2 separate regions of the Homo sapiens genome follow, and region 2 is linked to region 1. The links come from fine-mapping of genetic effects on gene expression. Tissue or cell type: whole blood. Region 1 holds a variant in brackets; the other region holds the start of a gene. All regions are shown on one strand. Distances are from middle to middle. Region 1 has its middle 28 kb from the start of XYLT2. Region 2 holds the start of TMEM92-AS1 (TMEM92 antisense RNA 1).

Region 1 (5,521 bases):
GACTCAAGTGATCTGCCCGCCTCGGCCTCCCAAAGTGCTGGGATTACAGGCGTGAGCCATAACGCCTGGCCCCTATTCTTACTTGTAACAAAACAGGCATTTTTGGTTATTTTAATCTACTATTGCCTTTTATACTGGATTTCTGTCACTCGCAATCAAAAGAATCCTGACTGTTCTACAAGCAATATGGGGGGGGGAAATCATTTTTGTGTTTAATTTCAGTATCCATGTGCTTTGCCATAAATGTTTTTTAAGAATTTTAAACTATTTTGGCCAGGTGCAGTGGTTCACGCCTGTAATCCCAGCACTTTGGGAGGCCGAGGCAGGTGGATCATGAGGTCAGGAGATTGAGACCATCCTGGCTAACATGGTGAAACCCCGTCTCTACTAAAAATACAAAAAAACAGCTGGGTGTGGTGGCAGGCGCCTGTAGTCCCAGCTGCTAGGGAGGCTGAGGCAGGAGAACGGCGTGAACCTGGGAGGTGGAGCTTGCAGTGAGCTGAGATCACGCCACTGCACTCCAGCCTGGGTGACATAGCAAGACTCCGTCTCAAAAAAAAAAAGAATTTTAAACTATTTTAAGGGTTTTTTTTTTAAATTTTGGTGGTTAATTCTTAATTATGACATGCATTTTAAAGATACGCTTTCAGTGGTTTATCATATTTTCTCTTTTCCACATAAAACTTTTGAATTATTTATTGGCAAATGTGACTTGTTTAAAGTGTTAATTTCATGCTTTTGCAGGTGTACATTTAGAAATGAGCACAGTGAGCCTGCAGAGACAGGCTCCTAAGACAGCCCTGCCAAGCTAAGCTGATGTTCTCTTCTGAGACCAGGGAATTTGTGGGTTCCACTCTTTCTGGCTTTGGGGAGACTGTCTGACTACAGAAATATTGGCCACCTAAAGAATTTAGGTCCTTGCCACTCGGACAAGCATGACCAGCCCCAGTTCCCACAAAGAAACATCTGTCTTGCTTCATGTCATGGAGTTGCTTGTATAGTTTAAGTTTCGAGTACTTGTCTGAGCAAGTCTGTCTTTTCATGGATGGCTGAAAATGCTTTATGAAGACGTACACTTCACAAGAGTTAATAGCAGAAAGCACTGTGTCAAAACCCAAGACATAAATGTAATTAAAATCACATTGTATTTCCTGTTGGTTGCTGAAGTAGACATTAAGAAAGTCTTATCTTTAATAGTACATTTAAAATTCCCTGTCATAGAAAATTATCTTTAAATGATAGCTCAGAAAAGAAATACAAAAAGCTCTCATGCCATTTATTATTAATGTGATTTATGTTAAGTCTGTCAGTGGAATGCTGAAAATGTGCCAATGAGTTAGCTCAAGAAATGATGCAAAATTAAATATTAATGAAGCACTCAAACAAGCACCAATTACACTGCAGTATAAGCTTGTAAATATTTCCATAAGTAATTTTCAGTCCGTATTCAGGTAGCACTATGGAGCAAGAAAAGAACCATCATTAATTTATGCAGAAACCTTTTTTACTAATAAATTTTCCAAATCACAAATTTAATTTTAGCTTTTGATTTTTAAAAAGGCAATAAACTGTTAAAGTTTGTACTTGAATTCATGGATACTCTTTTTTTTTTTTTTTTAAAGATGGGGTCTCACTATGTTGCCCAGGCTGGTCTTGAACTCCTGGGCTCAAGTAATCCTCCCACATTGGCCTCCCAAAGTGCTGAGATTACAAGCATGAGCCACTGTGTCTGGCCTTTTCTTTTCTTTTCTTTTTTCTGACACAGGGTCTCACTCTGTCACCCAGGCTGGAGTGCAGTAGTACAATCATGGCTCACTGAAGCTTTGATCTCCTGGGCTCAAGTGATCCTTCCACCTCAGTCTCCCGAGTAGCGGGGACTACAGGCGTGCACCATTATGTCCAGCTGATTTTTTTAAATTTGTAGTAGAGATGAGGTCTCACTATGTTGCCCAGGTTGGTCTTGAACTCAGCTCAAGCAATCCTCCCTTGTCAGCCTCCCAAAGTGTTGGGATAACAGGCCTGAGTCACCATGCCCAG[C/A]CCATGGAGAGTCTTTATGTTGCAAGTGATAGAAAGCCCAATTCACATGGTTTAAACAAGGAGAATTTGCCTGCATGCTTTAGAGAAAAGTGCAAATAAAATGCCGCTTCAGGCAAGATTTTATCCAGCAGCAGAAATCCCAACTCACGTGGCTTAAACAAAGAGAACTTGCCTACATGCTTACCTGAAATGTATACTTGAAATGTGGCTTCAGGCAGGATTTCATCCTGCAGCTCAAAGGATGTCACCAAGAACCTGGTGTCTTTATGCCCTTCCTCTCTGTCTTCTGCTGGGTCAACCCCTTCCTCAGGTCAGTGGCTCCTAGAGTGCACTACCTCTCTCTCTCCCCTTCAAAACCAGACCACTCATTCTCCAGCTGTAGGGAAGATTGGCTGCTGATGGCTCACAGCTCTCGCAGCTGAGCCTTCAGGCATTGTTTCATGTTCATAAATGCCCAGGCTTTATTTATTCCCATCCAAAGACTATCCTCCGCCTAGCCCAAGCTTTATGTGATCTGCCAATGATTGGTCAGTGCAGAAGTACAAAAGCGTAGTCCTCCTGCCTAGATCTGAGACAACTCTGAAGGGCCACCTCAGGTCCAAAGCTCCCTTTAGCATCAGTTGAGGCTGTGCTGCAACTGCAACCCAGTTCCACTTTTCCACTTCTCCCTCTGCTCAACCTGCTTCGTTTACTACCTTACAAGTATTGTTTCTGAGACCATGGCCCAGTCACTTCCAGCGTGTAAATATCCATCACAAATCTATTGGCAGGGAGGGACCCAGACATGAGGCAGCTGAGGCCAGGAGTAATTTTTAGGAAGCAGATTCTAAAATAGGTGTTTGGAGCTGGAAGGTGGAGCAATAATTGCCCCTGGCATTCTAGCGTGGTGTACTTGTTTAAACTTTCACTGGGGATGTGCAGGAATGATGGGAAACTGATGGAAGGGAGGCACTGGTGGAAGCAAATTCCCAGGCATTTGAGAGGTTTGAGTGAACTAGTAATATAAGGACTGTGAAATCAGATGGCTCTGGGGCTAGCAATGCTTAAAGGAAGACAATGAAAGTTTGAGAGTACTTAATCATCAGTTTGAGACAAAGTGTGAAAGTCTCTTGGCAGCATATAGAGACTCTGTAGCTGGAGGGCAGAAAAAGCTAAGGATCAGCCCGAAGCTTCATTATAAGGGTAATGCAGCTTCAGAGAGGTTGGATTCTCAATCAGAGCACGTCCGCTCTGTCAGGTCATACCCCAGTAGAGAAGGATCAGAACTCAGAGACTTGGGATGGCACATCTGGGTCAATGCACTAAAAAAATCTTGAATCTCCAGATTCCACTGAACCCACTGGGCCTGCAGAAGCGGCCCCCTGCCCACTGTTAAGGGCTAAAACTCCCCTCATGCTTGAAGATAGTGCAGGGCCTCTGCTTTGCAAGATGAAATGCACCTCCCTCCTGGCCACCAGACAAATAGCTATCAAGTCACAACAAAACCGGCCAGGGATGCGCCAGACCTGCTGCTGAGGAAGGAATGAGACTGTACCCTGGAGGAGCTGCAGGAACTTGCCAACATGTGCTGGCAGGATTCAGGAGAGTAGAGATGGGACTGGATTCTGAGGATGAGGATCAAAACATAGAGCTTGATAGGAAAGAATATTGAATAGGAGTGTGCTCCTGTGATGCAGGATTTTACCCCCTGGCAAGGACCCCAGGAGAAGGTGCTAGAATGGCTCTTGGAAGCCTAGAAACAGCACTGGCTCAAACTAAGTTAAGGAGAAAAGTTCAAACAGCATGGCAGATGGCAGAAGGGATCAAATGGATCAAAGGAGAGGGTTTGCTCAACCGGATCAGCCTGTGTCGGGCCTGCAAATTCCCCAGCTGACTATGTTCCCTGGGAGAGCCCATAAATCACTCTTTTACCAAAGCAGTAAAGAAGGTGCTGGTGGAGGAGGAGCAGCAGCATCGAGAAGTCTATCGTTGGCCATTCTCGGGGAGGCCGTGAGGGTGGGAGATGCTGTTACAGAGCGGGGTGGTGGGGGTGGGGGGAGCTGATAGTAATAGGGATAAGAGGAGCCCAAAATAATCAAGGCCAAGTGGCAGTGTTACAGGAGAGGGGTCCCGATCCAGACCGCAAGAGAGGGTTCTTGGATCTCACGCAAGAAAGAATTCAGGGTGAGTCTGTAGAGTAAAGTGAAAGCAAGTTTATTAAGAAAGTAGAGGAATAAAAGAATGGCTACTCCATAGACAGAGCAGCCCCGAGGGTGGCTGGTTGCCCATTCTTATGGTTATTTCTTGATGATATGCTAAACAGGTGGTGGATTATTCATGCCTCCCCTTTTTAGACCGTATAGGGTAACTTCCTGACATTGCCACGGCATTTGTAAACTGTCATGGCGCTGATGGTAGTGTAGCTGTGAGGACGACCAGAGGTCACTTTCATCACCATCTTGGTTTTGGTGGGATTTAGCCGGCTTCTTTACTGAAAACTGTTTTATCAGCAAGGTCTTTATGATCTATATCTTGTGCCAACCTCCTATCTCATCCTGTACTTAGAATGCCTAACTGTCTGGGAATGCAGCCCAGTGGGTCTCATTTTACCCGGCCCCTATTCAAGATGGAGTTGCTCTGGTTTCAACGCCTCTGATAGCAGCACTTATCTGTCAGAAGGTGGGCACGATTCTCACACTGAGCAGCAAGGTCAGGGAGGCAGCCAGAGGTCCTGCTGCAGAGAACTAAGTAAATGGTGTTTTTTTCCTTTCTTTTTTAAGATATATTTTTAATAGTAAAGATGGGGTTTCACCGTGTTGCCCAGACTGGTCTTGAACTCCTGCACTCAAGTGATCTGCCCGCCTTGGCCTCCCAAAGTGTTGGGATTACAAGTATGAGCTACCATGCCAAGCCGGAAATGGTTAATAGAACATAATATTCCTAGTGGTAAGATAGATGAGCAGCCAAAAACAGCTTATTTTATTTTATTTTTTTAATTTATTTTGAGACAGAGTTTTGCTCTTGTTGCCCAGGCTGGAGTGCAGTGGTGTGATCTCAGCTCACCACAACCTCCACCTCCAGGGTTCAAGCGATTCTCCTGCCTCAGCCTCCCAAGTAGCTGGGATTACAGGCATGCACCACCAAGCCCAGCTAATTTTGTATTTTTAGTAGAGATGGGGGCTTTTCCTTGTTGGTCGGGCTGGTCTCAAACTCCTGACCTAAGATGATCCGCCTGCCTCAGCCTCCCAAAGTGTTGGGATTACAGGCATGAACCACCGCGCCCGGCCCAAGAGCTTATTTTAAAACATCAACCACCCAACAAAAAGTCATGATTCCTTGTCCTGTTTCCAGCCTAAGTTAAGATCTAGAACGTCCTGAATGAAGAAAGACACTGCATCAGCTGGCATATGGACAGGATAAGGTTCCACCAGCCCTTCCACAGGGAGAACTTGAGTAATCATACACTGGGGAAAGAATGCAGATCTTTTGAGAACTGTTGAACATA
Region 2 (5,000 bases), 30 kb before region 1:
ACCCCATCTCTACAAAAAATAAATAAAAATGAAATACCCCAAGAGTCTGAAAAGAGGGTTATGTGTTTCCTCAGGCTGCTGTAGCAAAGAACCACAGAGTGGGTGGCTTAAAAGAGCAGAAATTTATTATCTCTCAGTTCTGGAGGCCAGAAGTCTGAAATCCAAGCATGGCTAAGGTTGCCCTTGCCTATCTTCTGGCGGCTGTGGCCCTTAGCTTATGGCTGCCCTCCAGACTCTGCCTCTACAGCACAGAGCATTCCCTCCCTCCCTCCCTTCCTTCCTTCATTCCTTACTTCCTTCCTTCCTTCCCCTCCCTCCCTTCCCTTTCTTCCTCTCTCCCTTTCTCTCTCTCTTTTCTTTTTTCTTCCTTTCTTTCTTTTTTTCTTTCTTTGTCTTTCTTTCTCTTTGTTTCTTTTTCTTTCCTTCCTTCCTTCTTTCTTTTTTCAGAGACAGGGTCTCGCTCTGTCACCCAGGCTGGAGTACAGTGGGGTGATTATAGCTCACTGCAGCCTGGAACTCCTGGGCTTGAGCAATCCTCCTGCCTCAGCCTCCCGAAGCACTGGGATTACAGGTGCAAGCCATCATGCCTAGCCTATCATTTTCTTCTGTGTCTATGCGTGTCCCCCTTTTCTGTCTCTGATAAGAACACTCTTCGTTGGATTTGGACTTCACCCTAAACTAGAATGATCTCATCTCAAGATCCTTATCTTAATTACACTTGAAAAGACCCTTATTTCAAATAAGGTCACACTCGTAGGTTTTGGCTGAAGATACATAATTTAACCCACGAGGGAGGATATATTTCTAGGCATTTAATCTGGGTGGGATCCCTGAGGCAGGAGGACCTCAGAGGTCACCTGAAAAAGCATATCTCTAAGCATATTCCCTGAAAAACTAGTTCCAAGTGATTTTTTTTCTAGAGGATTTTTTTAAGGGTGGGGGGAGCATTCTGTGTTCAGATAAATTTGGAAAATGCTGCGTATACCTCCCACACTAGAAGATTCACAGTTCACCTTAGTGTATTAAAGGGCTGAGAATTCACGGTAAAGAAGCATTATGTATTTATGGAAAGCATCATTTCCCTAGTTTATTTCACCATAAAACCCCATTTTCTTTCTCATAATCTCCGTAGCATTTTCAGATCATATCAGCCTGTGGAAATTCAAGAGGAATGTTGATGTGAGCCAACCTTGTCTTACTTTAGCTGAGAAGATCAACATCCAGAAAAGGACAAATGACTTATCCAAGGTCACACTGCTGAGAGGGTCGGAAGTTGATTTAAAACTCAGCCTCCTCAAAATGATAGCGATGGAGACACATTAGTTGTTGATGGGGAGAGAGTGGGTATGGCTACACAGAGGTCTCACCAGAGAGATCTGTTTGGTGGGGGAGCAGTTCTGCATTTTACTTGAAGAGGTAGTAGTTACACAAATTTGCATGTGATAAAACAACACAGAATTAGGCACACACATTATACCCACGTCAGTTTCCTGGCTTTGATACTTTACATAAGATGTAACCCTTGGAGGGCCTGGCACGGTGGCTTACCCCTGTAATCCCAGCACTTTCGGAGGCTGAGGTGGGCAGATCACCTGAGGTCAGGAGTTTGAGACCAGCCTGGCCAACATAGTGAGACCCCGTCTCTACTAAACATACAAAAATTAGCCAGGAGTGGTGGCACGCACCTGTGCCAGCTACTCCAGAGGGTGAAGCAAGAGAATTGCTGAAACCCAGGAGGCGGAGTTTGCAGTGAGCTGAGATCACACCACTGCATTCTAGCCTCGGGGACAAGAATGAAACTCCATCTCAAAAAAAAAAAAAAAAAAAAGAGATGTAACCCTGTAACCCTTGGAGGTCAGGTGCCTCCTGCCTGTAATCCCAGTGCTTTCGGAGGCTGAAGCAGGAGGGTTGCTTGAGCCCAGGAGTTCAAGACAAGTCTGCGCAATATAGTGAAACCCCGTCTCTATAAAAAATTAGCCAGGCATGGTGGCACATACCTGTAGTCCCAGCTCAGGGGCTGGGACTATGGGACTACTTGGGAGGCTGAGGTGGGAGGATCGCTGAAGCTCAGGAGTTTGAGGTTGCAGTGAACTATGGTCATGCCACTGCACAGCAGCCTGGGCAACAGAGCAAGGACCTGTCTGGAAAAAAAAATTGAGAGAAATTTGGCAAAGAAAATTGGGACCACTTTGTACTATCTTTGCAACTTCCTGTGAATCTATAATAATTTCAAAATAAAAAGTATGAAAAACTGGTTTCCTGTCTCCAGGTTCCAGAGCTTTTAACACTGTCAAAGGTCATTAGATCAAATTTAGGTTTATGCTCTGCTATTCATATGCTTCTAGTACCCAATAAAAAGCACTGTTTATGGGCTGGGTGCAGTGGCTCATGCCTGTAATCCCAGCGCTTTGGGAGGTTGAGGCAGGCAGATTACCTAAGGCCAGGATTTTGAGACCGGCCTGGCCAACATGGTGAAACCCCATCTGTACTAAAAATAGAAAAATTAGCTAGGCATGGTGGCACACACCTGTAGCCCCAGCTACTTGGGAGGCTGAGGCAGAAGGATCACTTGAGCCTGGGAGGTCGAGACTGCAGTGAGCTGCGATCACTTTGGAGGCTCAAGAAGACAATTTTGTGTTTTGACACAGCAATAGCAGAACTTTCATCAACAATTAGATTCAGAACAGGTTATACTGCACACATTTTTGCCACATGCCCAGCCATCTGGCTTCTCTTGGAATTGTCTCCATCTGCCCCCACCCCCACCCTCATTCACATAATGACTGTGGAACTGGGGGCAGCCATTTGATCCTACTTCTCTGGCTACGGTTGACTGGTTCAGGGGTGGGCACTGATCCAATCTGGGCCAATCAGAGCCCTTCCCTGAGAATTTTCTATTTGGAGCTCAGGGAATCTGTCCGATCCTAGATTGCTCAGGTAGTAAAAGTGTGAGATGGAGATGGGGCCACTGGTGGCCATGTTAGCCCCTTATGTGAAAAAACCTGGTTGAGTGAGAAGGAATGAAGCCAACATTCAAAGGAAAGTAAAGACAGGAGACAGAGAGAAAGTCCTGTTAACCTTGCGATGCCTGTTTCTGTTTGTTTCTGAAATCCAGCTGCCTTACTATGGCCTAGCTACTCCTCCCTTCCTTGGCAACCAAAAAGCTAACACATCTCTCATTTGGGCTGGGGGGTGTTGTTTTGTTTTGTTTTGTCTTAGTTTTCATTGTTTCAGACAAGGTCTTTCTCTGTCACCCAGGCTGGAGTGCAGTGGTGTGAACACAGCTCACTGCAGCCTCGACCTCCCAGGCTCAAGTGAACCTCCTGCCTCAGCCTCAGCCTCCCCAGTAGCTGGGATGACAGACACATGCCATCAAGCCTGGCTAATTTTTAAAATTTTTTGTAGAGATGAGGTCTCACTACGTTGCTGACTGGCCTAGAACTCCTGGGCTCAAGCAATCCTCCTTCCTCACCTTCCCAAAGTGCTGGGATTACAGGTGTGAGCCACAGCACCCAGTGACATCTCTTATTTTGCTCAAGCTAGTTTGAGTTGGTTTATCATCACTTGCAATCCAAAGAGCCTAAAGTAGCCTATAGACCAACTCCCTCATTTTACAGATGAAGAAATGGATCCTGAGAAAGTCCATGACATCCCTAAGGCTGAGGTCAGTGAGTAGCTAGGCTAGAATTAAATTGCAAACATCTTGATGGGAACACTCATTTGTTTTTGCACAGCCGCTCCTCCTGCCACGCCATGTGACATTTCCAAAGCCTGCCAAGATTTCCAAAGTCCTCAGTTGGAGGGAAATGCACCTAAACCTCCTCTTATCCACAAAACAAAGGGGAAAGGATAAAAATAGAAGACCCCTGAAATATAACTGGAGATCTGGGACCTGGGGGATTGGCGCAGGAAGCTGAGAATGGAGAGAACAAAGTCAGAGTTGTTAGAGGTGAAAACTGAAAGGACCCTACACTCTATTTGTGGCTGAGCTCTCACACAAGGAAGACAGGATCAAAGGAGGTCTTCATCTCTTTGCAAAACTCTCATGCAGGATTCAGATTAAACTGAGCCAACAAATATCCTCCTAACCGAGGCTAAAAAGAGATCAGAGACCCACTCCAGTGTTGGCCACCTGTGAATCCCCAAAACTCCCAGCCTTCCGAGGTCACCCTTACCTTTAATATAAAGTTGGGTAGCTCAAGGGAGGATCCAGATGCTTTTCCTGCGTGGTTGCACAGCTCCTTGCCAGTCCCCTTGGCTCCTACAGCTGACATTCTCCTCCTATCCCCCCACCCCAGCCTAGACACAGCATTCTTCCTGCTCCACCCACCCCTGACAAGCACTGCTAATCAAGCTGCTGTGTGGATCTGACTTTTCCTGAAGTTTCAGGCTAACAGAGAGGGGCGTGATGGGCCCTGGCAGGTTTTCAGGAGTTTTAGTTCCTCCTGGGCCACGTAATATATGAGGCTAACAGAGTGAGCCTGAATCAGACTGGTCCTTGCTAAACAGATGACTCAACATCCTGGAAATGTGTAGCAAGATGGTGTCTGGAGCCAGCCAAGAACTTGTCCCCAGAACCACAGTGTTTGTTAGTTCCCAGTGGCTTGCTAGAGGCAGGTTTTACAACCCCATGAGGCACTTACGCTGGGGTTTCAGGAAGAAGTGGGTGAGGGGCAAGTGGCTTGGTGAGCCTCGCTTTGAACTACCTAAGACTTGCCAGATCTTCATCCAGGACAGGCAGAAGCTTTTGGCCCCCACTCCCAGGAACCCTCCTGGGGGAGCCCAGAGAGCCACAATCGCTGACATCATCCAGCCCGTTGCCCTCTAGTGTCCCCTGAACCTCCACAGCCAAATGGTATTTCATTAAGGATCCTGGGGCAGAGGGCAGCTTCTAGGCAGCTTCAAACCCCATCCTCTGCAGAACCTGCCGAGAAGGTAACATCTCAAAACACATACGTGGTGTGTGCTGCTTATCCCTGACCCCGCTCGGGTATCCTCAC

Evidence for each region. PIP is the estimated chance that this variant, and not a neighbour inherited with it, causes the effect.
Region 2: TMEM92-AS1 starts here. The variant in region 1 is the best candidate, but not a certain one, in a credible set for the expression of TMEM92-AS1 in whole blood (TOPMed, PIP 0.84).

The regions. Positions count from the first base shown.
Region 1 is chr17:50,315,178-50,320,698 of GRCh38, forward strand. No RefSeq gene overlaps it. Among named protein-coding and RNA genes, the nearest start is that of XYLT2, 28 kb to the right of the region's middle. RefSeq lists enhancers at 996-1,125, 2,846-3,425, 3,426-4,004. The variant C/A (reference allele first, on the strand shown) is at 2,038.
Region 2 is chr17:50,285,743-50,290,742 of GRCh38, forward strand. TMEM92-AS1 (TMEM92 antisense RNA 1) reads right to left here and starts at 2,113. Exons shown (of 4, transcript NR_125805.1): 1 at 1,998-2,113.